2 separate regions of the Homo sapiens genome follow, and region 1 is linked to region 2. A link means that fine-mapping ties the variant in region 2 to the expression of a gene that starts in the linked region. Tissue or cell type: pancreas. Region 2 holds a variant in brackets; the other region holds the start of a gene. All regions are shown on one strand. Distances are between the middles of the regions.

Region 1 (8,097 bases), 200 kb after region 2:
GGACGCAGTGAACAATGGTCAGAGGGCCCCGTCGCCTGGATCTGGGCAGACAGGTCTGTCCTGCAATGGGCTTGGTCAGTGTCCCGCCCCCGCCAGAAAAATCAGGCCCAGCCGGCCCTGCCGCCTCCTGTGACCGGGCGCAGAGGCTGTGACACCAGCACCGGGTGAGGCCTCGATCAGCCGGCGAGCCCTGTGAGCAGGTGGCAGAGCGGTCAACCTCCCGACTGCCCCTCCCTGGGGACCAGGCCCTGCTCCTGACATCCCCAGACCAGTACACTTGGTCCACGGTTCCCGAGCTGGCGCATCTGGCTCAGCCGGGACAGCTGTGGGCTGAGGAGATCAGCAGGCCTCCCTGTCCAGTGCCCAGCTGGCCCTGTGAGAAAACCCCACCTTTTTCCACAGAGGATCTGCCTCTGGCGGAAGACAGAGCTTTGGAGGTCCCTCAGTCTGTGTCCGGGGCCCAAGCCCTGAGCCTGCCCGAAGCCAGAGCCCTCCCAGAAGCCTGGCTCTGCTGGCTCCAGCCAAAACGGTCCTGCTGACATCTAGCCACAGTGCCTCCTGCTGTCTGCACAGCCATTCCCACCGTCAGCCCAGGGAGGGGCCCGAGGCTTCATCCTGTGCTGGGGGCTGGACGCAAATCAAGCAGGGGCTGGGGCCTCAGTTTCCCTGCCTGTAGCATGAGCGAGTTGGATGAGGGGATTCCCGGTCCCTTCCAGCTCTGCGCATGCCCAGGCACCAAAGTCTTCACCCTTCAAACGGGCCCCCAGCCATCGTCACTTCATAGTTGTCCGTGACGGTGATCCCGACACAGCCAGAGGGCGACATCCACACGCGCTGAGCCGACTGCCTGGGGCTCTGCAGGCCGGGTGGGAGGCCGGCAGGAGTACCTGTGGCTGCAGTGGGAATGCAGCTGGATGGAAGTTGGGGACCGCCTTCCAGCACCCCTGCCTGGCCAAAGGGAGACCTTAGCCCACAGGGTCACCGCCTCAGCAGGACAGCCCCCACCCCGCAAGCCCTGTGCCCCGAGCATGGACAGGGCACAGCTCTAGGCTCTGGCAGCTCCTGCAGAGGGAGGACCAGCAGCAAACACAGACAGGTGGACAGGGAGTCACACACACAGTGAGGAGGGTGATGGGACAGCGGGGATGGTCTCTCCAGAGGTGACGCCTGAGGCTGCAGGACAGAGTCACCCGGGAGCAGGGTCGGTTGGTCCAGAAGGTCCCTGCCTGGGGAGCAGGCAGGCTCCAGGAGGGCCCAGCCAGGGTGTGCATGCTGTGGCTCTGGGCCCGGGCCCGGGTGGGCGCTGATGGGGAGGTTAGGCAAGGCGGGCCTGAGAGCTGGGCACGACTTCCTGAGCTTGTTCCCCACCTGGGAGCCTCCCTGGAGGGACAGTGTCAGTGGAGGAGTTGGGAAAAGCAGGCAGGGTGTCCCAGGGAAGGATGGGCCTCAGCCCGGGCCCCTCACGGACCCCTCAAGGATGCTGGACGCGTTGATGCGCCTCTCGTTCCCATCTCTAAAAGGGGAACAGGCCGGACGTGGTGGCTCAAACCTGTAATCCCAGCACTTTGGGAGGCTGAGGCGGGCAGATCACCTGAGGTCAGGAGTTCAAGCCCAGCCTGGCCAACGTGGTGAAACCCCGTCTTTACTAAAAATACAAAAATTAGCTAGGTGTGGTGGTGGGCGCCTGTAATCCCAGCTACTCGGGAGGCTGAGGCAGGAGAATCACTTGAACCCAGGAGGCGGAGGTTGCAGTGAGCCGAGATCGCGCCATTGTACTCCAGCCTGGCGACAGAGCGAGGCTCCGTCTCAAAAAATAAATTAATTAAAAATAAAAGGGGAACAGTGGCTCCAGTCATTCCAGCCTCAACCCCTTGAGCCCTGTTGCTCAGGGCTGTGGGAGGGTAGGAGATATGAAGGACAAGGAGTGTGTGGATCCGTTGCGGGCATGGAGCGGGACTTGGTAATGGTGGCCCCAGCGGCATGAGCCCAAGCGTAACCAGAACAGGACAAGAGGTGGGCTGAGGGCCCACATCCCTCTCCCAGGAGCCGGGGTGAGTGAGTTTTTTCTCCACAGGGGCCTCTGCATGGGGGTGACAGGGACCCTCAGGGCCCCGCAACCCCTTGCCAGACCCCAAAGGGTCCAGGGACTGGGCTGTCACTCCCCCTCTCCTGCCTTGATCCACAAAAACCAGAAATATTTCCTTTTTTTTTTTTTTTTTTTTTTGGACACAGAGTCTCCCTCTGTCCCCAGGCTGGAGTGCAGTGGTGTGATCTCAGCTTACTGCAACCTCCGCCTTCTGAGTTCAAGCGATTCTCCTGTCTCAGCCTCTTGAGTATCTGGAATTACAGGTGCACGCTGCCACACCTAGCTAATTTTTGCGTATTTCGTAGAGACGGCGTTTCACCATGTTGGCCAGGCTGGTCTCGAACTCCTGACCTCAAGTGATCCACCCACCTTGGCCTCCCAAAGTGTGGGGATGACAGGCGTGAGCCACCACGCCCGGCCCAGAAAACAAATGTTTTCAACTCATCTCTTGGGGCGTGGATTTTTTTTTTAATTCAGATGAAATTCACATAACATCAATTTACCCAGGTTTAAGTGAACGATTCGGTGGCGGTAAGTATATCCACAGTGCTGTGTGCCTGCCGCCTCTACCTCATTTCAGGACTCCTGTCACCCCCCAGAGAAACCCTGTACCATTAGCTCTCCACCCCTCCTCCTGCAGCCCGGCCCTCCTTGGCCTGCCGCAGACCTCTCCCACGTGTCCCCACCAGGTGGCAGCTGCCTGGCCGTCTGGCATAGGCAGGTGAGGGCGCCAGGCGGCCAGCAGGTTCCTGGGAGCCAGCTGCCACCCAGCAAACAACCGGGAGGATAGGGTGTCAGCCGTGGGAGGGGACAGGAGGGGACGGGCCTGCAGCCTGGGGCCCAGGTGGGCCACTGGGGACGTGAGGCACTGGCCGCCCCGCCCCAGCCTGGCACAGCCCTTCAGATCCTGGCCTTGCCGCACCCACAGTGGGGCCTCCAGTTGGGGCCACGTGGCCATGAGAATGACCAGCTAGGCTTCCCTGGAGGCCAGGCCTCCCTGGACTGGGCCAGGTGCTTCCTGCCAGCAAAGGTAGAGCTGGGCCCTGTGACCGCAGACCAGAGGGAGAGGAGGAGGCTGGACTGGGCTGCGAGTGTGGGAGAGGGTGGACTCAGGGCCCCAGCAGGTTAGTGGGAGATGGAACAGGCACCCAGGGCTGCCAAGAACCCCAGCAAAGCCGGGCTCCCAGGTGGGTGGACAGGTCCCAGAGCCAGTGAGGGCCGGCTCCTCCCATGAGGGTGGCTGCACACCCCCTCCTGCCGGGGCAGGCAGTGCTGGTCTGCGCCCGCTCCCCAGCCCTCCCGGGCAGGCAGGGCGGCAGGGGTTCCCCCTCTTCTGCCCCACTGGAAGACGGTCTTTGTCCCCTAAGAAGCAGGCTCCCTGCAAGCCTGAGACTCGGAGTTGGAAGCTGGTTTTACAAGGGGGAATTGAGGTGGGACCCTCAGGTCGCAGGTGGTTGATGGGTGAGCTTCGATGGCTGAGCTCGGAGCAGGGAGGGAGCCGGGCCTGGCGCTGGTGTCCGTGTGGGGGGTGCGGCCTGGTGGGTGGCTCAGCCTCAGCTCCCGTCTCACTGTCTCCTCCCTCCCCCGCTGCTTCCTGCTGCCGGGAGCCAGTACCTTTGCCCTCACTCCTCCCGGTGTGTGTCCTCCCTCCCTCTGCAGATGAGTAATGTCTCAGGGATCCTGGAGACAGCCGGCGTCCCCCTGGTGTCAGCGAACTGGCCGCAGCCCAGCCCCCCACCGGCTGTGCCAGCTGGGCCGCAGATGGACCACATGGGGAACAGCTCCCAGGGGGCCCCCTGGCTCTTCCTCACCTCCGCACTGGCCCGAGGCGTCTCGGGGATCTTCGTGTGGACTGCCCTGGTGCTCACCTGCCACCAGGTAAGCCCTTCCGCCCCCGAGCCTCCTTCAGGACCTTGGTCTCCACAGGACGTGGCCGTGGCTCAGCCCGGTCCCCCTGGGTGCCGCTGCTATAGACGCTGTCAGAAGTGGGATCGGCCAGGGCACGGGGGAGGGGATGAGCTTCCCCAGGATGTGGCATGTGGGAGCTGGGCCTGAAAATGGGGAGATCTCTGCCAGGCTGAGGGCAGAGCGCCCACCGGGCACCCCTGGCTATTTCACAGGCTCGTCACTCGGCTCACTGAGGTCTGCAGTGTGGTCCCATTTCACAGACAAGAAGACTGAGTCTCAGAGAGACCAGAGGTCTTTCCCAGGCTCACATAGCTGGAAAGGGGAAGGGGCCTTCTCCTTCCAGAGGCGTGACACCCTGGAGAAGGCTGGTGGGAGGTTGGCAGGGGGTTGGACTTTGCTCTGTAGGGAGCTGGGGAGCAAAGGTCACAGCTTGTTAGAGGGACCGGGACTCCTGTGCAGGAGATGGGCGAGAAGCAACTTCCCCAAGCCCGAAGCCACACACAGCCCCCGACCCGGAGCAGTCCCCAGGTGGGAACAGAACAGCCCCCAGGTAGAGAAGCGGCCAGGCGCTGTGGCAAGGAAGGGCCAGGCAGGGGCAAGGAGGAAGTGGTGCCCGAGGGCAGGGGCTGGGCAGAGAGGGCAGGGAGTCAGGGACAGGACCCTCCTGAGAGACTCAGATACACAGAGAGGCCAGGGCGGTGTGCGCAGGGGTGGGGTGGGAGTGCGTGTGTAGGCCCGCGAGGGCCACACGGCTGCAGGGATTTGTCCAGAGCCCTTGACCCCAGTGCGGTGAGGTGGCTTTCAGGGGGTGCTGGGAGCCCAGGAAGGCTGTGGAGGGCTGGGCTGAGGGCAGAGCTGCTTCCCGGGTGCACGGGGCACTGGTGTAGGGAATGGATCTGTAGGTGAGCTGGGGCAGGGGGCCATCAGGAGACTGGCAGGCAGGGACACCGGTGGCCACAAGTCTCCGAGGGAGCATCTCAGTGACAGTTTATTAACTGCTTATTAGCCGGGCATGGGGGCCTGCACTGTTAGTCCCAGCTACTTGGGAGGCTGAGATGGGAGGATCGCTTGAGCCCAGTTCAAGGTTGCAGTGAGCTGTGAACAGATAACCAGAACCCACGGTAGACGTGTATGAGTGTGGCCTGGAGTGTGCAGAGCCGCGGAGGCAGTGCCGAGGCAGGCCCTTCCTGTAAGGCCATCAGAGAGGGCTTCCCGGAGGAGGCCGTCTTTCCGCTGTAATCCTGGGAACCGGCTGTGTGTGCGCGGCTGTAGTGTGGCTTTAGCTTCATGGGGCCTCGCAGTCAAGACAGGGCTCATGGAGACCCCTTGGGCTGGAGTTCAGGCCCTGTCCCACCCCTGAGCCCACCGCCAGAGTCACCCTTGAGTGAGGAGTCCCAGGCAGGACACAGAGTGGCTGGATCCCCCTCACTTTATACATGGGAGGACCGAGGCCGGAGAGGACAGTGGCTTGTCAAGGTCACCCAGCCAGGCAGCGCCAGCCCCGGGAGAGGTCTCCTGATGGCTGGTCATGCCGTCCCTCCCAGGGACCATCGGGGAGCGTGTGACTGATAAGAGTCTGTTCCTGCCTCCAACCTCCCCCAACTCCCTGAGCTGCACCCCAAGCGGCCAGGTGCACGTAGCCTCTGCTCGCCCACCGCCACGCATGCACCTCCTCCAGAAGGCCTTCCCCAGGAGCCCCTGTGCGCCCAGCTCCCAGGCTCGGCTGACCCTGTCTCAAAGACCCTGTAGTTGAGTTGTATCCTCACAGAAAACATGGAAAATCGGTCAGGCGTGGTGTCTCACACCTGTAATCCCAGCATTGTGGGAGGCCAAGGCGGGTGGATCACCCGAGGTCAAGAGTTTGAGACCAGCCTGGCCAACATGGGGAAACTCTGTCTCTACTAAAAATACAAAAATTAGCCGGGCATGGTGGTGCGCGCCTATAATCCCAGCTACTCAGGAGGCTGAGGCAGGAGAATCACTTGAACCCGGGAGGCGGAGGTTGCAGTGAGTTGAGATTGCGCCACTGCACCCCAGCCTGGGCAACAGAGCAAGACTCCGTCTCAATAAAAAAAATAATAATTAAAAATTAAAAAAAATAAAAACGTGGAAAATCTAGAAAGGTTTAAAGGCAAACACTACTATAATCACCCATACTTTTTCCCAGGCTTTCTTTTTTTTTAGGCAGGATCTCACTCTGTGACCCAGGCTGCAGTCCGGTGGCACAATCAGTGCTCACTGCAGCCTCCGCTTCCCGGATTTAAGCCATCCTCCCACCTCAGCCTCCCGAGTAGCTGGGACTGCAGGCGCCCGCCACCACGCCTGGCTAATTTTTGTATTTTTTAGTAGAGATGGAGTTCGCCCTGTTGACCAGGCCGGTCTCGAACTCCTGAGCTCAGGTAATCCGCCCACCTTGGCCTCCCAAAGTGCTAAGATTACAGGCGTGGGCCACCGTGCCTGGCCCCTAGGGAGGGACAAATTCTTAGGAATCAAAGGGTGCACATCCTTTGGATGCCCCCACAGCAAAAGCCAATGTGCCTTCTGAGAGTCTGCCCAGCCCAGGACCGGGACGTGTCCCCTCTCCGTCCCCCGGGTTGGACACTTAGCTGGGCTCTAGAAACGCCTGCTGAATGAAGGAATGAGTGAGCGTTCCCATTCCCAGGCTAAGAACAAACAGGACCCTCACTCATGCCCAAGGAACTTATTCAGAAAAAAAAAAAAAAAAAACCTATTGTACAACATGGTGACTGTTATAAATAACAATGTATTCTATGCTTGAAAATTGCCAAGAGAGTACATTTTACATGTCCTCCCCGCAAAGAAATGCTAAGTATGGGAGATAATGGAGACGTTAATGGGTTTGACTCAGCCATTCCCCACGAACACACATATCAGACATCGCGCTGCACACTGTAAATGCATACAATTTTGATTTGCCAATTTAAAAAATAAATTTTAGGCCAGGTGCAGTGGCTCATGACTATAGTCCCAGCACTTTGGGAGACGGAGGCAGGAGGATCCCTTGAGCCTAGGACTTTGAGACCAGCCTGGGCAACACAGTGAGACCCTGTCTGTACAAAAAATACAAAAATTAGCCAGGCAAGGTGGTGCACACCTGTAGTCCCAATACTCAGCAGGCTGAGGTAGGCAGATCACTCGAGCCCGGGAGTTCAAGGCTGCAGTGAGCCATGATTGTACCACTGCACTCCAGTCTGGGCGACAGAGCGAGACCCTGTCTCAAAAAAAACCTGGGCAAGAGAGCGAGACCATGTTTCTCAAAAAAATATTTTTTTTTTTTTGAGAAAGGGTCTCGCTCTGTCGCCCAGGCTGGAGTGCAGTGGCGCAATCTTGGTTCACCGCAACCTCCACCTCCCAGGCTCAAGCGATTCTCCTGCCTCAGCCTCTCTAGTAGCTGGGATTACAGGCGCGCGCCACCATGCCTGGCTAATTTTTGTGTATTTAGTAGAGACTGTGTTTCACCATGTTGGCCAGGCTGGTCTTGAACTCCTGACCTCAAATGATCCACCCACCTCGGCCTCCCAAAGTGCTGGGATTATAGGTGTGAGCCACTGCACCCGGCCATAAAAAGTCAATTATTCAAATGTGTATTATTTTTAGTTGTAACCAGAAATATGTATTTAACATATACATTCATACTTATATGTACTTCTATAGTAAATACGTATAAAAGTATGTATCTAATTACAATAGGCAAACAATTTATTTTCTCTAATTGTAATAAGGATGCCCATTGTAGAAAACTAGAAAATGCAAACATAGAAGGTGCCTGGTGGCCTGCACCCACCCCCACCTCCTTCCCGGCTCACCTGGGCTTGTGCAGGGGTACCAGGCGGACCCGGCTCTCACCCGAACCCTCCTGCGCCCACCCCCACCTCCTTCCCGGCTCACCTGGGCTTGTGCAGGGGTACCAGGCGGACCTGGCTCTCACCCGAACCCTCCTGCGCCCACCCCCACCTCCTTCCCGGCTCACCTGGGCTGGTGCAGGGGTACCGGGTGGACCCGGCTCTCACGCGAACCCTCCTGCGCCCAGGGCGGGCCCGGCTCTCACGCGAACCCTCCTGCGCCCACCCCCACCTCCTTCC
Region 2 (8,097 bases):
TCCTTGTTTAGAAATTTAGTCCCAGGAAAGGAAGAATCACGAACACTTTGGACTTAAGGACACTGGGCACAGCTGAAGGTGACGGCACTTATTAAAAGCAGAGGGATTGGCTGGGCGTATTGGCTCACGCCCACCATCCCGGCGCTTTCGAACATTAATCCGAAATAGGCCACGAATTTAAATGCAAAAAGTAAACTGTAATCTTCTAAAATAAAATATAGCAGAAATACTAGAACATCTTCAGGACCACTGGCTCGGCAATGTGGTACCAAAAGCATGATCTACGAAAGTGAAAAATGGATCAACTAGACCTCAAAACGTTAAAAAAAAATGCTTGCATTCAAAGGATGAAAAGACAAGCCACAGGCAGGGAGAAAATGTTTGCAAAGCACACATCTGACAAAGGTGTCGTTTCTAGAAAAATGTAAAGAACACTTAAGACCCCACAGTAGAAACAAACGAAACATTTAGAAAATGGGAAAAAAGGCTGGGCACGGCAGCTCACGCCTGTAATCCCAGCACTTTGGGAGGTTGAGGTGGGTGGATCACCTGAAGTCAGGAGTTCGAGACCAGCCTGACCAATATGGTGAAACCCTGTCTCTACTAAAAATACAAAACTTAGCCGGTTGTGGTGGCGGGTGCCTATAATCCCATCTACTCGGGAGCCTGGGGCAGGAGACTTGCTTGAACCAGGAAGGCAGAGGTTGCAGTGAGCTGAGATCATGCCACAGCACTCCAGCCCGGGTGACAGAGTGAGATTCTGTCAAAAAAGAGAAAGAAGGAAAGGAAGGAAGGAAGGAAGGAAGGAAGGAAGGAAGGAAGGAAGGAAGAAAGGAAAGAGAAAGAAAGAGAAAGAAAGAAAGGAAAGAAAGAAAAAAAGAAAGAAGAAAGGAAGGAAAGAAGGAAGGAAGGAAGAGAAAGGGAAAAAAGATGTAAGGAGACATTTCATCAAAGAAGAGCTACAGAGGGCAAATAAGCACATGAATAGGTTTCACATGAATAGGTGTTCACCATCAGTAGATACCAGCAAATAGAAATTAAACCACAATGAGATCACTACACCCTATTAGAACGACTGAAACAGAAAATAGTGATACGACCCAATGCCAGTGAGGGTGTGGAGAAACTGCATCTCGCATACATTGGTGGTGGTGATAAAAAATGGCGCAGCCACCCTGAAAAACATTTGAGCAGCCAGCATGCACTTACTATGCACCCCAGCAACTGCATGTCTGTGCATTAACCCCAGAAAAATGAAAACTTAAGTTCACACCAAGGCCTGCACGTGAATGTTCATAGCAGTTTATTTGTAATGGCTCCAAAGTGCAAAACCACCCAAATGTTTTTCCACAGGTGAATATGGTTAAATAAACCTGGGTGTGTCATCTATACAAAGGAATACTACTCAGCGATGAAAAGGAACAAACTAAACTGTTGATCCCATAAAAGAACTTGGGTAGACGAGGTGCGGTGGTGGCTCACGCCTGTAATCCCAGCACTTTAAGAGACCAAGGCGGACAGATCACCTGAGGTCAGGAGTTCGAGACCAGCCTGACCAAAATGGTGAAACCCTGTCTCTGCTAAAAATACAAAACTTAGCCGGGCGTGGTGGCAGGTGCCTGTAATCCCAGCTACTTGGGAGGCTGAGGCAGGACAATCGCTTGAACCAGAAAGGCAGATGTTGCAGTGAGCCGAGATCGTGCCATTGCACTGCATCCTGGTCAACGAGCAAAACTCCATTTCAAAAAAAAAAAAAAAAAAAAAAAGAATTTGGGTGGATCTTAAGGGCCTTACGCTGAGTGGGCGAAAAACACCTCAAAGGTTACACAGGGCATGATCCCATTCATATAACCTTCTCAAAATGACAGAAACGGAGAAGAGATGTGTGGCTGCCAGGCAGGGGTAGCGTTGGGGTGGAGTGGGGGGGACAAGATCCCTGTGGTGACGGAAGAGTTCTGAATCTCGACTGGGGCGGTGGTTACTGAAATCTATATACGGGGGGTAAGTTTGCAAAGAACTACACACACGTCCACGCAGGTGAATGCGTGTACAGGCTGCTAGGAACTGAATCAGATCTTAGTCTAGTTAACAAAATTACACCCAGGTGCAAGCCGACTTCCTGGTTTTGATACTGTACGCCAGTTACGTAAGGTGTCACCGCTGGGGGAAGCTGGGTGACTCTATTTTTACAACTTCCTGTGACTCTATAATTACCTCAAATTTAAAGTAAAAATTTTAAAGACTCCTAGAAAGTAGAACAAAAGGGCAATGCAATGGGGTGAGAAGAGATGCTGAGAAAATCGCAGTCACCCAAAGAGACTGTCCCTACGCCCCGCGTGTGCCCCCAGCTCCCACGCCAGAGCCCACATCCCCACCTTCTCTCCCGCTAAGGAGGAGCAACGGCCAAGTCCAAGACCTGTCTGGCCAAGCCCGGCCCTTCCATGGAGCACAGTGTCTCGTCCCGTCTTACTCAAACATTGCTCCAGCAATTCTTTCCCTCTTCCGTTCGCCATCAACGTTTTCTTCTCCACTGGATCCTAAAACACACGTTATTTCCCCATCTTCATGCACCACGCCCTACACCCCATCTGGGGGAAACAGAGGCTACAAACACCTGTTGTTACAGAAAATAAAGAGATACCTCTTTGCATATCCACCTGCGGGGTAGAGATTTCAAGCCTGCTGCATTTCTAGAGAGAAAGGGCTAGAAAGGCAGATACCAATATATTCCCATGGTTAGCTCAGGGTGGGGAGAGTAAATGATTTCTGTTTCCTTCTTTAACTGTTTTCTGAAGTTTATGTAGCAAAAGGATTACTTTTGAGATAAAACAAAAATCAATAAAAGTTATTATTCTTTAACATACTGGCTGGGTGAGGCAGCTCACACCTGTAATCCCAATACTTTGGGAGGTCAAGGCAGGTGGATTACTTGAGTCTAGGAGTTCAAGACCAGCCTGGGCAGCATAGCAAAACACCGTCTCTATAAAACAAACAAACAAACAAAATAGCCAGGTGTGGTGGCGCGAACCTGTGGTCCCAGCTACTTGGGAGGCTGAAGCAGGAGGAACACCTGAACCCAGGAATTTGAGGCTGCAGTGAGCCATGATCGTGCCACTGCACTCCAGCCTGGGTGACAGAGCAAGACCTTGTCTCAATAAAATTAGGATAGAATAGAATAGAAGACTTCAATGGCTTCCTATGCACAGAGGCCGACTGTCATTTCTTCACACTTGCAAAGCAGGCCTCTGAGCCTGGCTCCGCCCCATCCCTGGTCTCAGCAGGCCGGGCCCCCTCACTGCCCCATGGTGGCCCCTCTGGGTGGGGTCGGGGTCTGTGCTCTCTGCACCTTGGCCCCCGCCATCCTTTCTGGGTGGAAGTCCGCTCCCCGTCCCTGCCGCCTTGTCTCTGCCAAGCCAGCTCCTGATTGTCCTTCAGGGTCTTTTTGTCTGATTTTTGTTGTTGCTGTAGTTGCTTTGTGTACTTTTTTTTTTCTGTGAGACGGAGTCTCGCTCTGTCGCCCAGGCTGGAGTGCGGCGGCGCCGTCTCGGCTCACTGCAACCTCCGCCTCCCGGGTTCAAGCGATTCTCCTGCCTCAGCCTCCCAAGTAACTAGAAATACAGGCGCCCGCCACCACACCAGGCTAATTTTTATATTTTTAGTAGAGATGGGGTTTCACCATGTTAGTCAGGCTGGTCTTGAACTCCTGACCCCAGGTGATCCACCCGCCTCGGCCTCCCAAAGTG[C/T]TGGGATTACAGGCGCGAGCCACCGCGCCCGGCCACCTTCAGTCTTGAGCGATCACCTCCTCTAAAAGCCTCCCTGTCCCCAGTGGAGATGACGGCCCCCTCCTCTGTGGCTGCCCCCAGGCCAGCCTCCCCCATCACCCAGTCCGGGTTGTCTCTGAACCTTCTCACCCCTGCTGTCTGTGGACTGAGCCCTGCGGGCCCCATCACGGGCTCCCTGATGTCCTGGCCATGCAGCCAGCAGGGAGCCCAGCAGGAGATGGGAGGGAGATCGGGGGACAAGCGGGGGTGGGCATGTGTCCCCAGTCCTCCTGCGAGGCTGCTGAGGCCCACTGGGAACTTCCCCTGAGGTCCCTCTCCAGGGCCCCGTGGGCCTCTCTGCACCTCTCTCTCTCCCTCCGGGTTCGGGGGCTCTCCTCCTCCCCCTCTCCCAGGGGGCCAAGGTGTGCCGTCAGCTTGGTGTCTCTGGAAATGGCCCCTTTGTAGGTAACCCCTTGAAGGATTCTACTTTGGGGTGTCTGCTCTTTCCTGTCGGGACCGTGGCTGACACATTCTTGGTGGGGAGCGTGTCTGGTACAGGGTAGGCCACCGCAGCTGAGGTGTTCTCGGTGGGGAGTGGCAGGCAGCGTGTCTGGTACACAGTAGGCTCTTTGCGTTTGGGTGCTGAGTGAATGCGTGGGTGGCAGAGACCTGGGGCCTTGGATTTCCTGCTCTTCTTGCTCTGCCCTCTGCCCCGGGAGGGGACACCTGGACTCAGCCATGCCTTAGGCCTCGGTGCACAGAGGCCCCCCCTGTCTTTGCCCTCTGTGTCTGCAGCCTTGGCCACAGGCCCCTGGGCTGGGGCGCCCTGTCCACCCTTTTCCTCTGAGCTCGGCCCCGCGGCTCACCCTGGCCTGTGGGATGCCAGCAGATGTGACCCTGGGGTTTGCTCCCTCGGCTGTCGCCGCAAGAACCAGCCCGTGCTGGCTCGATGGAGGATGGGAGACTGTGGGGAAGAACCCGGTCCTCCCTGTGCCCCGTGACATGAGAGTGTGCCCTCTTGCCAGCCGCCCCCCGAGGGGCCATACCGCACTGTGGTTGTGGGTTAGGCAGCATGATCACGGCAATGGATAACCAGTGCACTGCAGGAGGGACAGGCATCGGCATCCCCCCCACTGGACAAACGAGGAGACTGAGGCAGAGAGGGCCAGTGGCTTGCTATGGTCACACGGTCGTAGGGGTACGGCCTGGGCCTGAGGCCTCGCTGTGGCTTAGCCCTGGTCTCACAAACGAGCAAGACCTGCCCTCCAGGGCTGCCCCTCGGAAGCTGGGCACCCATCCCAGCTGCAGGGCAAGGCTGGGTCTGGCAGGTTTTTCTCCTGCTCCTGAGCCCAGCTCTGAGCCCACAGGGCACCAACCCCTCTCACCTTGGCAACCTCCACCTCCTTCCTCGCCCAAACCAAATACCACCCCTTCCAGGAAGCCTTCCCGGCTCTTCCCAGTCAGGAGTTCCCATCCTTCCCAGACCTCCAGCGCCTCCCCTGCTGCCCTGAGCCGGGTCACCCACCTCTGCACTGAGTTCTCTGCCAGCCTGTGAGCTCCCCGGGGGGCCGGGGCCGGGCTGGGCTCCTCCCTGCGCCCACACAGAGCTTGGCACAGAGCCCTGCACACAGTAGCCGCTTCCTAAGTGTGTGTCTCCTCCTGCTTATGTCCTGTCACCCCCACCATGACACCTTCAAGCAAGGGCACGGGAACTCGGGCCTCTTTTTCCCAGGACTGGCTGGGCGTTTGCAGACACTCGGGGCCAAGCCCCGCGGCTTCCAGGAGGGCTGAGCTCCCGGGCGGGGTGTCCTGGCTGTTGAGGACCCCGCACCTCGCTGCCTGCCATTTTCCCTTGTTCCTCTGTGGGCCGTTGACTCCTGGCCAGCTGCCCGGTGTTCCCAAGGCAGGCGCCTCTCTTCTGTGTCTGCCCTTCTCCCGCATTTCCTATAAATAGCCCATCTTCGCTCCTCAGTGAAAGGGAGCAGCGGGCTGAGAAGGCCTGGCCACCTCTCTGTCCCATGACCAGACTGTCATCGAGTTGCTATGTGACCTTGGGCAGGTTGGGGCCCTCTCTGGGCCTCCACCCGTCAGCCCTGGAACCCGCTCCTGGTCCCCGCTCCTCTCCCCTGGGCCTGGCGTTGTGGTCTCCAGCGGTCTCTCATGCCCTCCCGGGACCCCTCATGGAGGACAGGGAGCTGCCCAGGGCTGAGAGTCCCGGGCTGGCCAGAAACCTTGGGTCAAACGGCGAAGAGCTGGTGATGCAGCGTCCTCAGAAATGGCCCCCTTTGGAGGGCTGAGTCACAGGGTGCCCGTGGAGCCCACCCGGGCGTGCACCCCCGGAGCAGGCCTCACACTCTCAGGTCCCTGGTGGGGTGACCGGGGTGCAGGTGGCAGGATCGGGCTGGCTAACCTGGAGGGGACAGATGGGCCCTCAGTTCTGTGGCCCCTGGGGGACAGCCCCCTGGGCTTCTGCTGTAAGGGAGGTCCCGAAAGCTGGAGACAGCTACAGAAGAGAGGGGTGAGCTTCCCGTCACCCAGGGCGTGCAAGCAGAGGCTGCCCCTGCTCCTACCTGCACTGGCCCTTCCTCCCTCCCTCCTTGTCCCCCACTGGGTCAGACTGAGACTGGGTCCTTTCTTGGGGGACCCGTCAGAGCCTGAAAACCGGCTTCATCCCTCCGGTTCCTGCCCTGGAGTCTCCCGGGTTCCTGTTGCCTCTGGGACCCGGCTCCAGCCGCAGCCTCCTCCCTCCCTGGGTCTGTGCCAGAGTTCAGAGTGGGGGTGGGTCTGCCATCAATGGAGGGGTGGGGTGGGGGCTCAGCAGCCGGGACTTTAGGAAGGACAGGGGAGGGGCCATCCAGACAGGAAGAGAGGGGTGACAGGGAGCTTTGACTCAGCAGTCCCGGCATCAGGCAGGTGTCCGGGCCCAGGGTGAGGTGTTCCCCTTCCTCACAGGGCCCTCCCCCTGAGCAGAAAGGCAGCTCTGCGTGGGATGCAGGGCTGGGGGCTGTTTCCCTGGGGTGGGTACAAAACCCCCACTCAGCTGGCAGGTGGATTCGAGGGCCTGGGAGTCCAGTCTCGTCCTCAGCGTCTCCCTCTGGCTCCTGTAGGTGGGATGAGGGGCACCCTGTGCTCTGGGCAGCAGGAAGCCAGGGACTCTCTCCATCCTCCCCTGGGGATGCTAAACAACCTGGTGCTCGTCCCACATGGACTCCAGCCTCTTATTCACTCAGAACGGGGGCCCACACCAGGGCGTGCTGCCTGGAGGGGTGGTGGGTGAGATGCATATGGAGGGGGCTGCAGTGCAGGGTCTGGCTCCGGGCTCAGCGTCCTGAGAGACCCCCGAAGAATTAGGGGTCTCTGGGCACTTCCTGTAGGTGGGGCTCTGGCGACAGCAGGGGAACCCGCCCTCACACAGACACACCCTCCAACCACCTCACGCTCACGCTCAATCACATGCAAACCCACACCATCGGCTCACCCGGAACCTCACTCAAGAGCCTCTGGGCGTCCCAGGCCCACTCACACCCCCTCGGCTGCTGGGTTCTGCACACACCCCGCTGGCACGCACAGCCAGACACACACAGAAGCAGCCCCGCACCGTGGATCCACCACACCAAGACCCTGCTCCCGCCCGTCCTCCCGCCGCCACCTGAGCTTGGCTCCCGCCTACCCTGTCCACACCGGCTCTCAGACACGCTCCAGCCCAGTGCGGGCCGCCCACCTCCCAAGGGTTCCCACGTGCACCCCCCTGGTCACACCACGCTCTAGCCAAGAGAGCACAGCGTGTCCCCACCCCAAGGCCAAAATCAGTAAAACCACCCCCTAAACGGGACATAAAAGAAACCTCAACTCTTTCCCTGAAACCCACAGTAAAAACCCAGGACAAACAAGCATTTGATTTGTTTTCCTTTGCAGATTTTTTTTTAAGTAGACATAGTCTTTTTTTTTTTTTTTTTAGTAGACATAGTCTTTTTTTCTTTCTCATTTTACAGCAAACATTGCAAATATAGAAATATTTTTTTCTGTACAATAGAACGACTACAGTGTACATGGGGGCTGGGCTGGGGGACGTGCCTCCCAGCCCTTGGCCGTCCTGGCCACCCCGGCCGTCCACAGGCACAGCCTCCACCCACCCTGAGTCCAGCAGGGCTCCAGGACCTGTCCCGGAGGCCACTTGGCCGCCGGCATTCACTCTGCCCCTCTGCAGTGGACTCCGGAGGCGGCAATGAAGAGACGGACTGGACAGAGAATCCACAGAAAACCACGGACCGAGGAGATCACGTGAGGGGCCCCGAGGTGGCCACGCCGGCCACACCCCCCACGGATGGCATTTTAT

The links. PIP is the estimated chance that this variant, and not a neighbour inherited with it, causes the effect.
Region 1: it holds the start of TMEM184A, and the variant in region 2 is fine-mapped to the expression of TMEM184A in pancreas (GTEx, PIP 0.99).

The regions. Positions count from the first base shown.
Region 1 is chr7:1,551,133-1,559,229 of GRCh38, reverse strand. It overlaps TMEM184A (transmembrane protein 184A), which reads left to right and starts at 3,025. Exons shown (of 9, transcript NM_001097620.2): 1 at 3,025-3,116; 2 at 3,746-3,964. The coding sequence starts at 3,746. RefSeq lists silencers at 2,750-2,839, 2,880-2,949, 4,317-4,499 and enhancers at 2,607-3,406, 3,543-3,837, 3,407-4,207.
Region 2 is chr7:1,747,504-1,755,600 of GRCh38, reverse strand. ELFN1 (extracellular leucine rich repeat and fibronectin type III domain containing 1) reads right to left here. Exons shown (of 4, transcript NM_001128636.4): 4 at 7,655-8,097. Among named protein-coding and RNA genes, the nearest start is that of ELFN1-AS1, 9.2 kb to the right of the region's middle. The variant C/T (reference allele first, on the strand shown) is at 3,744.